Homo sapiens: one gene and its partners. The protein of the gene in region 4 purifies or fractionates together with the protein of the main gene of each other region. This does not show direct contact. Each region holds a gene or a part of one and is shown on either strand. Other genes may lie near its edges.

Region 1 (3,500 bases), on a different chromosome or scaffold from region 4:
CTAGCATTCCTAGAAATAAGAGACTTCACTCAATTACATGCCTGTTATAGCATCTGAATATGTATCACATATGTACCAAATTGCCCTAAAAGCTGTTAAAATTTAAGAGAGGGTAATCCCATTTGAAAATGCAACCACCATTTTGTTTCAGTAGAGCAGACAGAACCATAAATCAAATTTAAAACCAGATAATTCAGTCACCTCCCTGATTTGGTCAAAATTAGTTGCTTTCTTTTGACAACTATGAAATCAAGTTGAAAAAGAAACTTCACTTTGTGACCTAAGGCCTAACTCACTGATGGACTTTCTCTGAAGATAAATTAAGAGATGGGGCAGTTTCTGTTAAATATTAACATTATGATCTGAAAACTATTGAAACTCTACAGGAAGATGGCTGTTTTTCCCCTAGACTTTCAAGATAGAGAATGGGGTAGGAGAACCACTAGAATTATCAACGTTTAATGTTAATTTTTTATTTTCTTAGAGGAATTATAATTATTTGCTGCCCACACAAAGGAATTTTCCTCTATTTTCTTTTACATAGATCCATTTGAACCACAGCGACGTCTCCCCGCGAAGAAAAGTCGACAACAACTTCAGCGAGAAAAAGCCCTTGTAGAGCAAAGCCAAAAACTTGGGCTTCAAGATGGATCAACCTCATTACTTCCAGAGCAGCTGCTTTCAGCACCAAAACAGAGAGTTAACGTTCAAAAACCACCTTTTTCTTCCCCTACTCTTCCGAGTCATTTCACTCTCACCTCCCCCGTTGGTGATGGACAACCACAGGGCATTGAAAGTCAGCCAAAGGAACTGGGACTTGAGAATTCCCATGATGGTCACAACAATGTTGAGATTCTACCTCCAAAGCCAGATTGCAAATTGGAGAAAAAGAAAGTGGAATTGTTAGTAAGTCTATGTGAAAAGTCCATGAGACTTTTCATTTAACCCGTTTTTTCCCAATGGGCTTTAAGGAAATATAATTTGTTTATTTTAACATTTTCTCTCCTTTATATTCATTCAATCATAGGAATGTGATGTATAAACTATTGAAAAATAGCTACTGCCTAAATATAAGCTGGACACAGGCATTCTGTATGTTTTATGTTCTTTAGTCTTCATAACAGCCTTACAATGCATGTTTATTATTTAAACTTTATACATGAGGTATCTGGGACTCAGAAAAGATGATACCTTTCTAAAGCTAATACACTGCTAGTAAATAGTAGAGATTTACAGATAAGTCTGTCTGGATCCAAAGTTTATGCCTTTTACACTGAGCAGAAGCAGTTCTTTTTTTCTTTCTTTTTTTTTTTTTTTTGAGATGGAGTCTCGCTCTGTTGCCCAGGCTGGAGTGCAATGGCGCAATCACAGCTCAGAAGCAGTTCTTATATGCATAGTGCCTCTGCCCAAATTGACCCCTTTTTTCAACTTCCAGACTATTTCCATTGGCCCAGAAATTGGAACTTGTGGAGAGACGTGAAGGGATGGTCAAAGGAGAGAGTGTAGGAAATTTAGGGGACTAATGATATAACTCAGTTCATCATTAGATTTCTTTTTATTTATTCTTTACTGTCTTTGTATTAGAAACAACCTTCATAATTTAGCTACACTGTTCTTGTGGAAGATGCCATTTTTTGATTTGCAAATTCTTAGAATTTTTTATTTGATAGCTTGTGTTTTAATATATACTCTTATTTCTTTGTTTGCTCCTGATTTATCTCTCACAGAGAAGGAATGACATTTTTCTGTTTTCTCTTTTCTGAGTTCTTTTCAAAGTATCTTTTTTTTTTTCTAATCTCTGACATCTTTTTAATCTCTGCTGATCCAGATTCTATCCTGTGAATTTAAAATGTTTCCTGTCCACTAGGGGTTTACAACTAAGAAATCATTTTGACAAGAGTTATAAAACCACATGAATTATGAAACCTATATTGAACAAGTGCATACATTAAAGTGTCTCTAAGTGTAGTTTACTAACAAAGGCCGGAGACAAATAGGAGGTAAGTTTACATTGAGCTGGACAATTTGGATTGGATGTTATAGGGAAACTTATTCTTTTTTTGGATACTTGGAAGAATTTTCATAAAAGACCTGTAACCTCAAACCATTCACGTAAAGGAGAAATTTTGAGGTTTTAAGGAGGAGAAAGGAAAGCTGTGTCCTAGAGAATGTTCAGAGATGATACCTCATTTCTCTGGGAGAGGTGGCAAAGGATAAGCCAGAGAACAGTAGAGAATTAAAGAAATGAGGAAGGAGGACAGGCGTGGTGGCCCACACCTATAATCCCAGCACTTTGGGAGGCTGAGGCAGGCACATCACTTGAGGCCAAGAGTTGAAACCAGCTTGGCCAACATGGGGAAACCCTGTCTCTACCAAAAATACAAAAAAATTAGCTGGGCGTGGTGGTGCATGCCTGTAGTCCCAGCTACTTGGGAGACTGAGGCACAAGAATTGCTTGAACCTGGGAGGTGGACGTTGCAGTGAGCCAAGATCATGCCACTGCATTCCAGCCTGGGCAACAGAGCAAGATTCTGTCCCAAAAAAAAAAAAAAAAAAAAAAAGCAGAACTGAGGAAGGATCAGAAGCAGAAGCAGGGGATGAATAAGTAGAGAATTAAAGAAATGAGAAAGGATCGGAAGCAGGGGATGCCTTCCTTCCTAGCAAGTTCACTAATGCAGCAAGTTACCATGAAGCTCTCTGAGGGCTAAAGGCCGCAATCAAAATAAAGGTTAGAGAAATCCCAGGTGTCAATATTGTAGATCATATGCAAGAGAGTGCATAGTGAGCTGTGGAACTAAGGCGCCTGGTGAGGAGATGCCTGCAGTAGTAAAAGTGAGAAATGACCAGTCCCAGCACTAAGGTGGAAGGTGTAGAAATGGAGAGAGAAGGACAATTTTGGAAGGGGCTACTAGATTTGGGAATAGAGGTATGTGATATAATGGCTGTAAGAAGTGACAGTAATAGGAATAAATAGCTTTGCCAATACCTTGTTTAATTTGAGTTGACATCAAGCTCATGACTTTATGGGAAATTTTAATGTATTTATTTTAGAATTGGACAGATTGTAAGACAATACATGTTTTCACATCTTTGAATTTTTTTCTTTAGCCCAGCATTCCAGTCTTAGCTCTTAGTGTTTTACTTTGTTTAAAAATGTCCAAGTTGGGCTGGGCACAGTGGCTCACACCTGTAATCCCAGCACTTAGGGAGGCAGAGGCGGGAGGATAGCTTGAGCCTAGGAGTTCGAGACCTGACTGGGTAATATAGCGACACCCTGTTCTCCACAAAAAGGAAAAAAGAAAGACAAAAAAAAGTCTTAAGAGTTGGGAAAAAGTGAGCAAATTGAAAGAAAATATTAATATATGAAATAAACATTGGTTATTGTCTGAAACATGTTAAGGTGGTGGAGACTTTATAGAAAACTCTAAAAGGTATAAATAATATGACATCAGCTACAAACCAATTTTTATTAATCTCCATTCTGCATATAATACATAATT
Region 2 (3,500 bases), on a different chromosome or scaffold from region 4:
CTCCATCAACTGGTCATCCCCATCTCTTTCCCTCTCTTTGGGCCTTCCTATTTCCTAAGACCCAATAATCACGAAATTAGGCCAGTTAATAACCCTACAATGGCCTCTAAATATGTTCAAGTGAAAGGAAGGGTAGCACAACTCTAACTTTAAACAAAAGCTTGAAGTGATTAGGTGTACAGAGAGAAGCATGTTGAAAGCCAAGATAGGACAAAAGATAAGCCTCTTTGCCAAACAGCCAAGTTGTGTTAAAGGAAAGTTCTTGAAGGAAATTTAAAGTGCTACTCCAGTGAACATATAAATGATATGAAAGTGAAACAGCTTTCTGGCTGATGCGGAGAAAGTTTTTGTGATCTGGATAGATGAAACCAGCCACAACATTCCCTTAAGCAAAAGCCTAACCTCCCTTCAGTTCTGTGAAGGCTGAGAGAGGTGAGGAAGCTACAGAAGAAACGTTTGAAGCTAGCAGAAGTTGCTTCATGAAGTTTAAGGAAAGAAGCTGTCTTTCCATTCCATTAAAGTGCAAGGTGAAGCAGGAAGTGCTGATGGAGAAGGTACAGCAAGTTACCCAGAAGATCTAGCTAAGATCATTGATGAAGATGGTTACACTAAACAACAGATTTTCAGTGTAGATGAAACTGCCTTCTATTGAAAGAAGATGCCACCAAGGACTTTCATAGCTAGAGAAGAGAAGTCAATGCCTGGCTTCAAAGCTGCAAAGGACAAGTTAACTCTCCCTTTAGGGCTAATTCAGCTGGTGATGGTAAGCAGAAGCTCATTTACCATTCTAAAAATCCTAGGGCCCTTAAGAATTATGCTGAATCTACTCTGCCTGTGCTCTGTAAACGGAAAAACAAAGCCTGGATGACAGCATATCTGTTTATAGCTCAGTTTACTGAATACTTTAAGCCCACTGTTGAAACCTGCTCAGAAAAAAAAAAAATTTCTTTCAAAATATTACTGCTCATTGATGATGCACCTAGTCAGCCAAGAGTTCTGATGAAGACGTATAAGGAGGTTAATGTTTTTATGCCTGCTAACACATCTACTCTGCAACCCATGGGCAAAGGAGTAATTCAGCTTTCAAGCCTTATTATTTAAGAAATACATTTCATAAGACTATAGCTGCCATATAGATAGCGATTCCTCTGATGGATCTGGGAAAGTAAATGAAAACCTTCTGGAAAGGATTCACCATTGTAGATGTATTTGTAGGCCAGGCACGGTGGCTCGTACCTGTAATCCCAGTACTTTGGGAGGCCAAAGCGGCAGATTGCTTGAGCCCCAGGAGTTCGAGACCAGCCTGGGCAACATGGTGAAACCCAATCTCTACAAAAAATACAAAAATTAGCTGAGCATGGTGGTGCGTGCCTATATTCCCAGCTATTTGGGAGGCTGAGATTGGCGGATCACCTGAGCCTAGGGAGGTTGAGGCTGTAGTGAGCCACGACCATGCCAGTGAACTCCTTCCTGGGCAACACCGTGAGACCCTGTCTGGGGCGGATGGTGGGAGAGGAACATTTGTGATTGGCCAGGCATGGTGTTATGTTCCTGTAATTTCAGCTACTCAGGAGGCTGAGGCAGGAGTACTGCATGAGCCCAGGAGGTTGAGGCTGCAGTGAGCCATGATCACACCACTGCACTCCAGCCTGGGTGACAGAGGGAGATCCTGTCTTAAAGAAAAGAAAAACAAAAAAGAACATTTGGGTCCGGGCATGGTGGCTTACACCTGTAATCCCAGCACTTTGGGGGGCCAAGATGAGTGGATCTCTTGAGCTCAGTAGTTCGAGATTAGGTTGGGCAACATGGTGAAACCCCATCTGTACCAAAAGTACAAAAAAATTAGTCGGGCCTGGTGGCACACACCTGTGGTCGCAGCTATTCGGGAGGCTGAGGTTGGAGGGAGGATCACTTGAGCCTGCGAGGCAGAGGTTGCAGTGAGCCAAGATCGTGCCACTGTGCTCCAGCCTGAGTGAGAGAGTGAGACCCCAACAAAAAAATACACAAAAAACATTTGTGATTCATGGAAGGAGGTCAAAATATCAACATTAAATAACAGGAGTATGGAAGGCATTGAATCCAGCCCTCATGGATGAGTTTGAAGGGTTCAAGACTTTAGTGGGGGAAGTACTTGCAGATGTGATGGAAACAGCAAGATAACTAGAATTAGAAATGGAGCCTGAAGATGTGACTGAACTGGTGTCACTCATGAGGAGTTTGCTTTATAGACAAGCAAAGAAAGCAGTTTCTTGAGATGGAATCTACTCCTGGTGAAGATGCTGTGAACATTGTTGAAATGCCAGCAAAGGATATGGAATATTACTTAAGCTTAGTTGATAAAGCAGCAGCTGGGTTTGAGAGAACTGACTTCAGTTATCTTATTTTAAGAAATTAGCATAGCCATCACAACCTTCAGCAGGCAACACCCTGATCAGTCAGCAGCCATCAGCATCAAGGAAAGACCCTCCACCACCAGAAAGATGACTTGCTGAAGGCTCAAGTGATTAACATTTTTAGCAATAAAATATTTTTAAATTAAGGTATGTATATTGGTTTTTTAGACATAATGCTGTTGCACACTTAATAAGTGACAGTGGTATAGTGTAAACATAACTTTTATATCCACTGGAAAACCAAAAAATTTGTGATTTTATTGTGATACCTGCTTTATTGTGGTGGTCTGAAATGAAACCCACAGTATCTTTGAGGTATGCCTGTATGTGCTTTTACTTCTGAAGTCCAGCCAACATTATTTCTCCTTCCTTTCTGTCTTCCTGCCATGTCTTCTGTACTTTTGGAAACTATGCACTTGTGCAGACATTGTGCTCAATACTTTGTTTCTTCAGATGCCATCATTAATGAGAACTATGACTACCTGAAGGGGTTCTTGGAAGACCTGGCACCTCCAGAGCGCAGCAGCCTAATTCAGGATTGGGAAACATCTGGGCTTGTTTACCTGGACTATATTAGAGTCATTGAAATGCTCCGCCATATACAGCAGGTACCTGAGATCCTGAAACTGCTGCCTGATTTTCCTTTTCTCAGGCCCTTAAATCTTCAGATACCTCACAAGGCCTTAGTATACACTTGAGAATGCACTGACAGAGATAGCACTGTCAAAGCAGGCATCTTGCTGAGGCTCATTTGATATAACCGTTTCTGACAGCTATATCGAAACTTAAAAATGCTATTTTATGTTGATTACCAACTAGTATGTGCAATAGACATTCCTGAGGCTTGTCCATAGACAGTCTCTTCCCCTTGTTCAGTCCTAGTTTGAGTGAGAAGCCCAAAGATGAGAGATAAAATAAGAATGGAGATTTGGTGAGGGTGAGGATAGCTGTTTTACACATCATTTGGCATGTTTTAAAATTGCAAATATGGGTTTTAAAGTCAATGTCTTCGGTCAGTTTTTTTTTTTTTTTTTTTTTTGGAACAGAGTCTTGCTCTGTCATCCAGGCTGGAGTGCAGTGGTGTGATCGTGGCTCACTGCAACCTCT
Region 3 (3,500 bases), on a different chromosome or scaffold from region 4:
TTATGGAGACGGGGTCTCACTATAGTGCCCCAGCTAGTCTCAAACTCCTGGGCTCAAATTACAAATTATACCAGGTAAATTTATCAAAATGTATGACTTAGAATACATTTTTGTTTTGCTTCTTTTTGACTATATTTGATTTTTAATAGTTTTTAAAAATCTTATTTTAGCTGTAATAAGTGCTATTTATAGGTTTATTTGAGGGCTGTGACCCATGTAATTAGGTGTTTATGAAGTTAAGCCAGAAGGTATATAACATATATATTTTAGTGCTTACAAAGATATTTCTTTAGTAATAGAGGGAATCCCTACTTGGTTATACTTTTTTTTTATTTTAGAAAGAATGTTATAGGTTCTGAGGCCAACATACATACAAAAAACTTACATGTAACCTATACTATACATTGTGATAGAGAAGATAGAGTATTGCAATATCTAGTCATTGTATAGCATTTTAGTAGAAAAATGAATGCACTAATTTAAGATGCTGGAAACACATCTCCTTTCCTTCTTAACTCTTTTTGGTAGGGAATTCTTTTCCCAATTTTTTTCTTTGCTTAGTATAAGCTGAGATTATCTCCTGTTCCAAGTCATGGGAGGAATGCCAGGGTCCTGAAGCAGGATTTTTTTTATATAAAGTTGGTTTCTCCAAACATCAAACCTAGAAACTGTAAAATAAGGATTAATATATTTGATTCTGTAAAATAAAAAAAAGCTTAAAAAAACAGACACACACCAAAAAAAAAAACCTCACCATAAACTAAATCAAAACACACTAAAAACTAAGGGAACTGTTTGCCAGATTATATGTCTAAGGGCTAATTTCCTTTTTTTCTTTTTTTTGAGATAGACTATCATTCTGTCACCCAGGCTGGAGTGTGGTGGTGCAATCATGGCTCCGAATAGCCTCGACCTCCCGAGCTCAAGCAATCCTCCCACCTCAGCCTCCTGAGTAGCTGGGACCACAGGTGTGTGCTACCATGCCCACCTAATTTTTTTTCTTTTTTTCTTTTTTTTTTTTTTTTTTTTGAGACGGAATCTCATTTAGTCGCCCAGGCTGGAGTGCAGTGGCACGATCTTGGCTCACTGCAACCTCTGCCTCCTGGGTTCATGCAGTTTCCGGCTAATTTTTGTATTTTTAGTAGAGATAGGGTTTCAGCATGTTGGCCAGGCTGTTCTTGAACTCCTGACCTCAAGTGACCTGCCCGCCTCAGCCTTCCAAACTATTAAGATTACAGGCGTGAGCCACTGTGCCCAACCATTTTTTTTTTTTTCTCTTTAGAGATGTGTCTCACCATGTTGTCCAGTCTGGCCTTGAACTCCTGGCCTCAAGTAATCCTGCCTCAGCCTCCCAGAGTGCTGGGATTACAGGCGTGAGTCACCATGGCCAACCCTAATTTCTTAATTTACAAAGAGCCCTTATAAATTAGAAAAGGGTGAACAGCACAATGGCAAAATGAACAAAAGGCTGTTAACAGAAAATTCAAAGTTCGAATGGACGTATGCTATTGTCTCATCACCTGCAAAGTGAGGCACCATGAAGGTGAGCCTCTTGCCAGGGCTGAGTTTTTGCTCTATTTCTCCCTACCTCCTTGATGACTTTTTTCCCTCAGATTCTTTCACATACTCTCCTAGTTTCCATCTAGGTTATGCTTTTTCCTCTGACTTGCAGAAACATTGTAATCACACAAATTTTCTCTTCCTGAAGTAGCACAGAGCTCTTTTGAGGTTTTCCAAGTGTGTTTATTACTTATAAAAAAGGAAAAACAGATGGTGAGCCAAAGGTTCCATCTTAGCCTCTGCCCACCTTGTTTTTAAATATAGATCCTGTAAAAAGAGATTAAAACTTCACACAATTGTGGGGTTTTGTTTACACAAAAGACTTAAGTAACATTTTCTGAGGCTTTCATTCCCAGTCTCCTCCAAGAATTAGAATTGGTGTTGTAACTCTGGATTTGTAAGATAAGGTAGACAAGGGCTGAGGAGAGTATAAATACCGCCAGTAGGAGTTGCCCTCTAATAGTGATAGATGTGTTCATTTTTTCTTCTCCCCTTGGTATGAGTAGTCTTTTAGTTAAAAACCTTCTCACTCCCCATTCAACCTTGTCTGTTGAGTCCCAGGTGAAGGACATTTGGGCCCAGGTGGTACTAGCAATCATAGGGGCTTTGAATAATAATAGTAAGTACTCAGTTATTTTTGTGTCCAGATACTGTGCATTATTTTACATGCATTGTATGTGTTTTCTCTTTTAAGTTTCTCAACCACATCATGAAATCCTTATGTAGACTATTGTTCTTATTTTATATATATAGAAAATTGAGGCCAGGTGTGGTTGGCTCACACTGTAATCCCAGCACTTTGTGAGGCCGAGGCAGGCGGATCACTTGATGTCAGGAGTTTGAGACCAGCCTGACCAACGTGGAGAAACCCCTTCTCTACTAAAAATACAAAATTAGCCGGGTGTGGTGGCACATGCCTGTAATCCCAGCTACTCGGGAGGCTGAGGCAGGAGAATCACTTTAACCTGGGAGGGAGGTTGCGGTGAGCCGAGATAGCGCCATTGCACTCCAGCCTGGGCAACAAGAGCGAAACTCCATCTCAAAAAAAAAAAAGAAAGAAAATTGAAGTGCATAAAGTTTAAATAACTAGTCCAAGGTAAGATTATCACCCACTCTAGAACCAGAGCTCTCACTCAGGATGTTTGATTGGGAAGATAAAGTTCAAGATAGCAATAAGTCTGGTGGACAGTAGGTCTGGGGCAAAACAGGGTGGGACAGCCAATGATAAAGTCAGAGAAGCAGAAATGGACTTCATGATTCCTTAGATCGATTCCTGGGATCTTGGTACCAGTTGGTCTTTATACAGACTCCGGTTTTTAGCTCTCTGTACTTTATCTTATGTCTCCTGAAGTGTCTGACACTTCTAGTTTCAGAGTCTCTTTGGGGCACTAAGGTGAATCAGCTGGCCTTTCCCATTGTAGTTTATTAAATATATTCTTGGATTTTTTCAGTCATTAGTAACTTCTGTTTCTACTGCTACTACCCTAGTTCAGGCCTTTATCTCTCACCTGGACTACCTTAGTAGCCTTCAAAATGGTCTCTTGTCTTACCCTATTCTCATCTTTCAAGCAATTAATGTAAAAGTTTTATTATCAATTTTTGAGGGGGGAGATATTTCAGCCTAGTAAGCTTGCTGAGCTTCTTAAATATAAATAGTGAATTCTGAATGGAAGATGCCTTCTTTTACTAGTTAATTTTTTTTTTCCAGACAGTGTTTCATTCTTGTTGCCCAGGCTGGAGTGCAATGGTGTGGTCTTGGCTCACTGCAACCTCCACCTCCTGGGTTCAAGCTATTCTCCTGCCTCAGCATCCCAAGTACCTGAGATTACAGACACCTGCCCCCATGCCCAGCTAATTGTTTTGTATTTTTAGTAGAGACAGGGTTTTACCATGTTGGCCAGGCTGGTCTTGAACTCCTGACCTCAGGCGATCAGCCCACC
Region 4 (3,500 bases):
ATATATATATATATCTCCTTATTACAAAAAGAAGCTTTTTCACTGCTATATCTGTAAGTTTTTAATGCCTTTCTAGAGGTGTGTTTTGCTCCTTCAAGTAGAAAGCTTAGAACTCTGATTTTTTAAAAATAAGCAATGATTGAGAGTAATTAAAAGGTTTGCATAATCACTGTGGTAAAGTTTAAAGCCAACAAATAGTTGATGAGCTAAAGTTAGTCTTGGAGAAAGATAAACTAGTTGTAAACTAAACATGAGTTTGCAGTAGAATAGAAAAGGATGAACTAGAAAAAGAGGAAAAATGTAGAGAAAGGGATAGGATGATATGGAGGTCAGAGAGAGAGAGAACGAGATCTATGAAAAGGAATTGCTGAATTGTGGAGAAAAGACCATATTGTACAGAGTATAATGCACCATATGAAACCAAATAATCTATATCACAATACTCACACCACTTTTTCAAGTATCTACTATGTGCACGGCACATAGATCATTTTTTGAAGAATAGATTTTATCTTTCTGAACAGCTTTCAATTCACTGAAAAATTGATATACGGTACAGAGAGTTCCTATATACTCCATATCTAATTTCCCTTCTTAATATCTTACAGTAGTATGGGACATGGGTTACAATGAACTAATATTGATACATTATTATTAACTAAAGTCTGTAGTTTATTCAGATTTCCTTAGTTTTTAGCCAAAGTTATTTTTTTCTGTTCTTAAATCATTTTTTAAATCTCCTAACTCTAACAATGTACAAATTGCCATCCTCGTTTTTAAAAAACTGAGACTTGGAAATTTTGTTATTTGCCTAAAGCACCACGTAGATGGGTAAAAGATGGCAATTGAAGTGTGAAACATTCTGATTCCAAATCCTATCTTTTTAATATGAGATACTGGCTAGAAATAGTCTAGGATAAAAAGAGCCCTAGAATCCTAACAACATGTCAGGTGTACTTCTTTACCCAGAGTTATTTCTCTCTGAATTGAGAGAGGTCCTCCTTTCTTCCCCTGTACACCCATCAAATATAGTCACTATGGGCAAAGTGGATGCTTAAGTATAACTTCTTAAAGAATATGAAGGAGAGGGATGGGCTTTTAGTGGGTAAATTTAACACTAGACTGTATCAACTTTACTATGTCGTTTAAACTGAAAGGAAAAAGATTTTAGCTCGGAAGAACACTTCCGAAGGAACAGAAGGAGACAGTACCATCATTTGGATAATTTTGGTAATTACTTTGGTTTCACTTTTACTGAGAAAAAGAGCATTCCAACAATCTTCCTAATTAAAGAGGGGACTTTAAACAGACTATCTGAAAAAACATTTTATTATTTACCGATATATTATGTTACATTACTGTGAATTGAAATATAACATGGCGAAATAATTTATGACCAAAACAAAAATCTCCCCACCAGAATGTAACAATGTATGTTTCAGTAGCTCAGAAATGACAGTTTGGAAAGCAGTTCTTTGCTTTTTCTTCTTCTTTTGTCAGAATGGTAAAGTGAATACCTAGAAGTTGGCATGGCAAAGCTATACCATATGTTTCTAAACTATGTAGTAACGGTGATGGGTGGCTACCTTGTGTGAACTAGCTACTTATAGTGAGGGAATGTAAAAGCAGGCACTGTTAGCAATTCATGTAATATTTAGATTGACATGACCATTTTTTAAATGATGTAGGAATTATTCTAATAGTTTAAAATGAGCATTGTGTCTACATACATAGGTATAGTGTACATGTGTGTCTGTGCATGATGGGGGAAAAGGGTAATCCTTAAAACTGTCTATTACACAGCAATTCCTATTTCATTCAAGAGGACAAATGTCTTGTAAGTTCAAGCTACTCATTTCTGTATGATTCAGCTTGTATCTGCCCATGAAATGATGGCTAATGTTGAGTCATAGCCATAGAAATTCTTTCCTTATTCATTTACTTGGGCTTATTTGGGCAAGACTAAAAAGCCATACCTTACATAAAAAGACCTAGTGCTAGCTAACTATATATGTGTGTGAGAGAGAGCGCAAGTATGTGTGTGTTTTGAATCAATAATAAAGTTGTCTACTCAGATATATTTTGAGGCACTTTGGTCTACTCAAAATTCTTAAGGTTTGCTTTGTTAGTGCAATATATGACTTGCAGTCTAAAAAAAAATTCTACCTTTTGAGAGAACAAAGTGACGATTAAACCAATTTTTCTTTAAACAGAATTGTTTCTCTTCATCAGGGGAAGAACTGAATTATTTAAATGGGCTTGTTGGCATTCTCCCCTCCCCATTTTCCTTGGTACATTGGGAAGCCGCTGTTATGCACTGATAGCAGAGACTTTCTGAAGATGCGGAATACCATGAAAGGTTCTTGCCTCATTACACCCCTAGCATAGGCTTATGATTCCCTAAAACTGGACCGAAGAACAAAGGAAATTAAATGTTTCATTCCTGAAGAATTGCACTGAGTAAAATGATAAAAGTCAAATGACTTAGGGATCTTCCCACTGCAAAAGCAAATTTAATAAACAATCGTAAGCTATCATGTTGAAATATAACCAGCATCTGTGATTTGGGGACAGGTGTCTATAAAACTTAAGCTGGAATGATGAGAGTTCTAACCTAGAAATAAGTTCTAAATAACTGACCAGTTACTCATTGCACCAAGCGCTCACCCAGGCTTGATGGCAGAAGAAATTGGTACTTGTGAGATGTGGTTCCTGAACTGGGGGAGCTTCTAGTTTGGAAGATAACATATATGTCAAATAAGCTGAATAAGAAAGTTTTAGTTGTAAGACGCTGATTAGAAGTACTAAAGTGGGGAAGGAAGAAAGAAGAGTGCATGCACACACAGGATTGGATACAGTAGTAGAAAAAAATCTTCATAGAGAAAGTAGACTAGGGTTAGGTCTTTAAAAGTTAATTTCATTTGAGTAAGCATAGGAAAAACAGGTATTGCAGTCTGGAGAAGAACACTAGGTAGCAGAAATGTGGAAAAGAGTCACTGTTAGGCAATGTCAGTCAGATTCTGTTGGTTCTAAGTGACAGAAACCCAGCACAAGTGGCTAAATCAAAAAAGAGGTTGAGTGACTTACTGGTTCATGTAAGTGAAGAGACTGGTACAGAAGTGACTGCAGGAATGGCTGGATCTAGGAGGCTAAATGACTTCCATATCAGAATGAAAAAAGCTAGATGATGAAGGGAAAGGATATACAGATTTAGCTTCCATAATCCAAAAACATAATATCTGAAATGCTCTAAAATCTTTTTGATCATGACATGATGCTCAATAGAAATGCTCATTGAAGCACTTTGGATTTCAGATTTTTGGATTAGGGATGCTCAACCAGTATGACATAAATATTCTAAAATCCTTTAAAAATTCAAAACACTTCTGCTCTCAAGCACTGAGGATAAGGAATACTCAACCTATATTTTGAAACCTGTGTTTTAGCTCAAACCCTGCCACTAATGAACAACTGATTGTAGGCAAGACTCTGGGATAATT

Evidence for each region. Proteins that work in one complex are often made in the same cells at the same time.
Region 1: the proteins of CADPS (region 4) and GORAB purify together in Homo sapiens (affinity purification with mass spectrometry; one large-scale study listed by BioGRID and IntAct). This does not show direct contact.
Region 2: the proteins of CADPS (region 4) and NUP98 purify together in Homo sapiens (affinity purification with mass spectrometry; one large-scale study listed by BioGRID and IntAct). This does not show direct contact.
Region 3: the proteins of CADPS (region 4) and MINDY2 purify together in Homo sapiens (affinity purification with mass spectrometry; one large-scale study listed by BioGRID and IntAct). This does not show direct contact.

What each region holds. Positions count from the first base shown.
Region 1 is NC_000001.11:170,538,666-170,542,165, forward strand, and holds part of GORAB (RAB6-interacting golgin), read left to right. Parts: intron 1-544; coding exon 545-902; exon of another isoform or gene 903-906; intron 907-3,500.
Region 2 is NC_000011.10:3,679,055-3,682,554, reverse strand, and holds part of NUP98 (nuclear pore complex protein Nup98-Nup96 isoform 1 precursor), read left to right. Parts: intron 1-2,846; coding exon 2,847-3,001; intron 3,002-3,500. UniProt on the Homo sapiens protein: Plays a role in the nuclear pore complex (NPC) assembly and/or maintenance. NUP98 and NUP96 are involved in the bidirectional transport across the NPC. May anchor NUP153 and TPR to the NPC.
Region 3 is NC_000015.10:58,777,802-58,781,301, forward strand, and holds part of MINDY2 (ubiquitin carboxyl-terminal hydrolase MINDY-2), read left to right. Parts: intron 1-3,500. UniProt on the Homo sapiens protein: Hydrolase that can remove 'Lys-48'-linked conjugated ubiquitin from proteins. Binds to polyubiquitin chains of different linkage types, including 'Lys-6', 'Lys-11', 'Lys-29', 'Lys-33', 'Lys-48' and 'Lys-63'.
Region 4 is NC_000003.12:62,868,917-62,872,416, reverse strand, and holds part of CADPS (calcium-dependent secretion activator 1), read left to right. Parts: intron 1-3,500.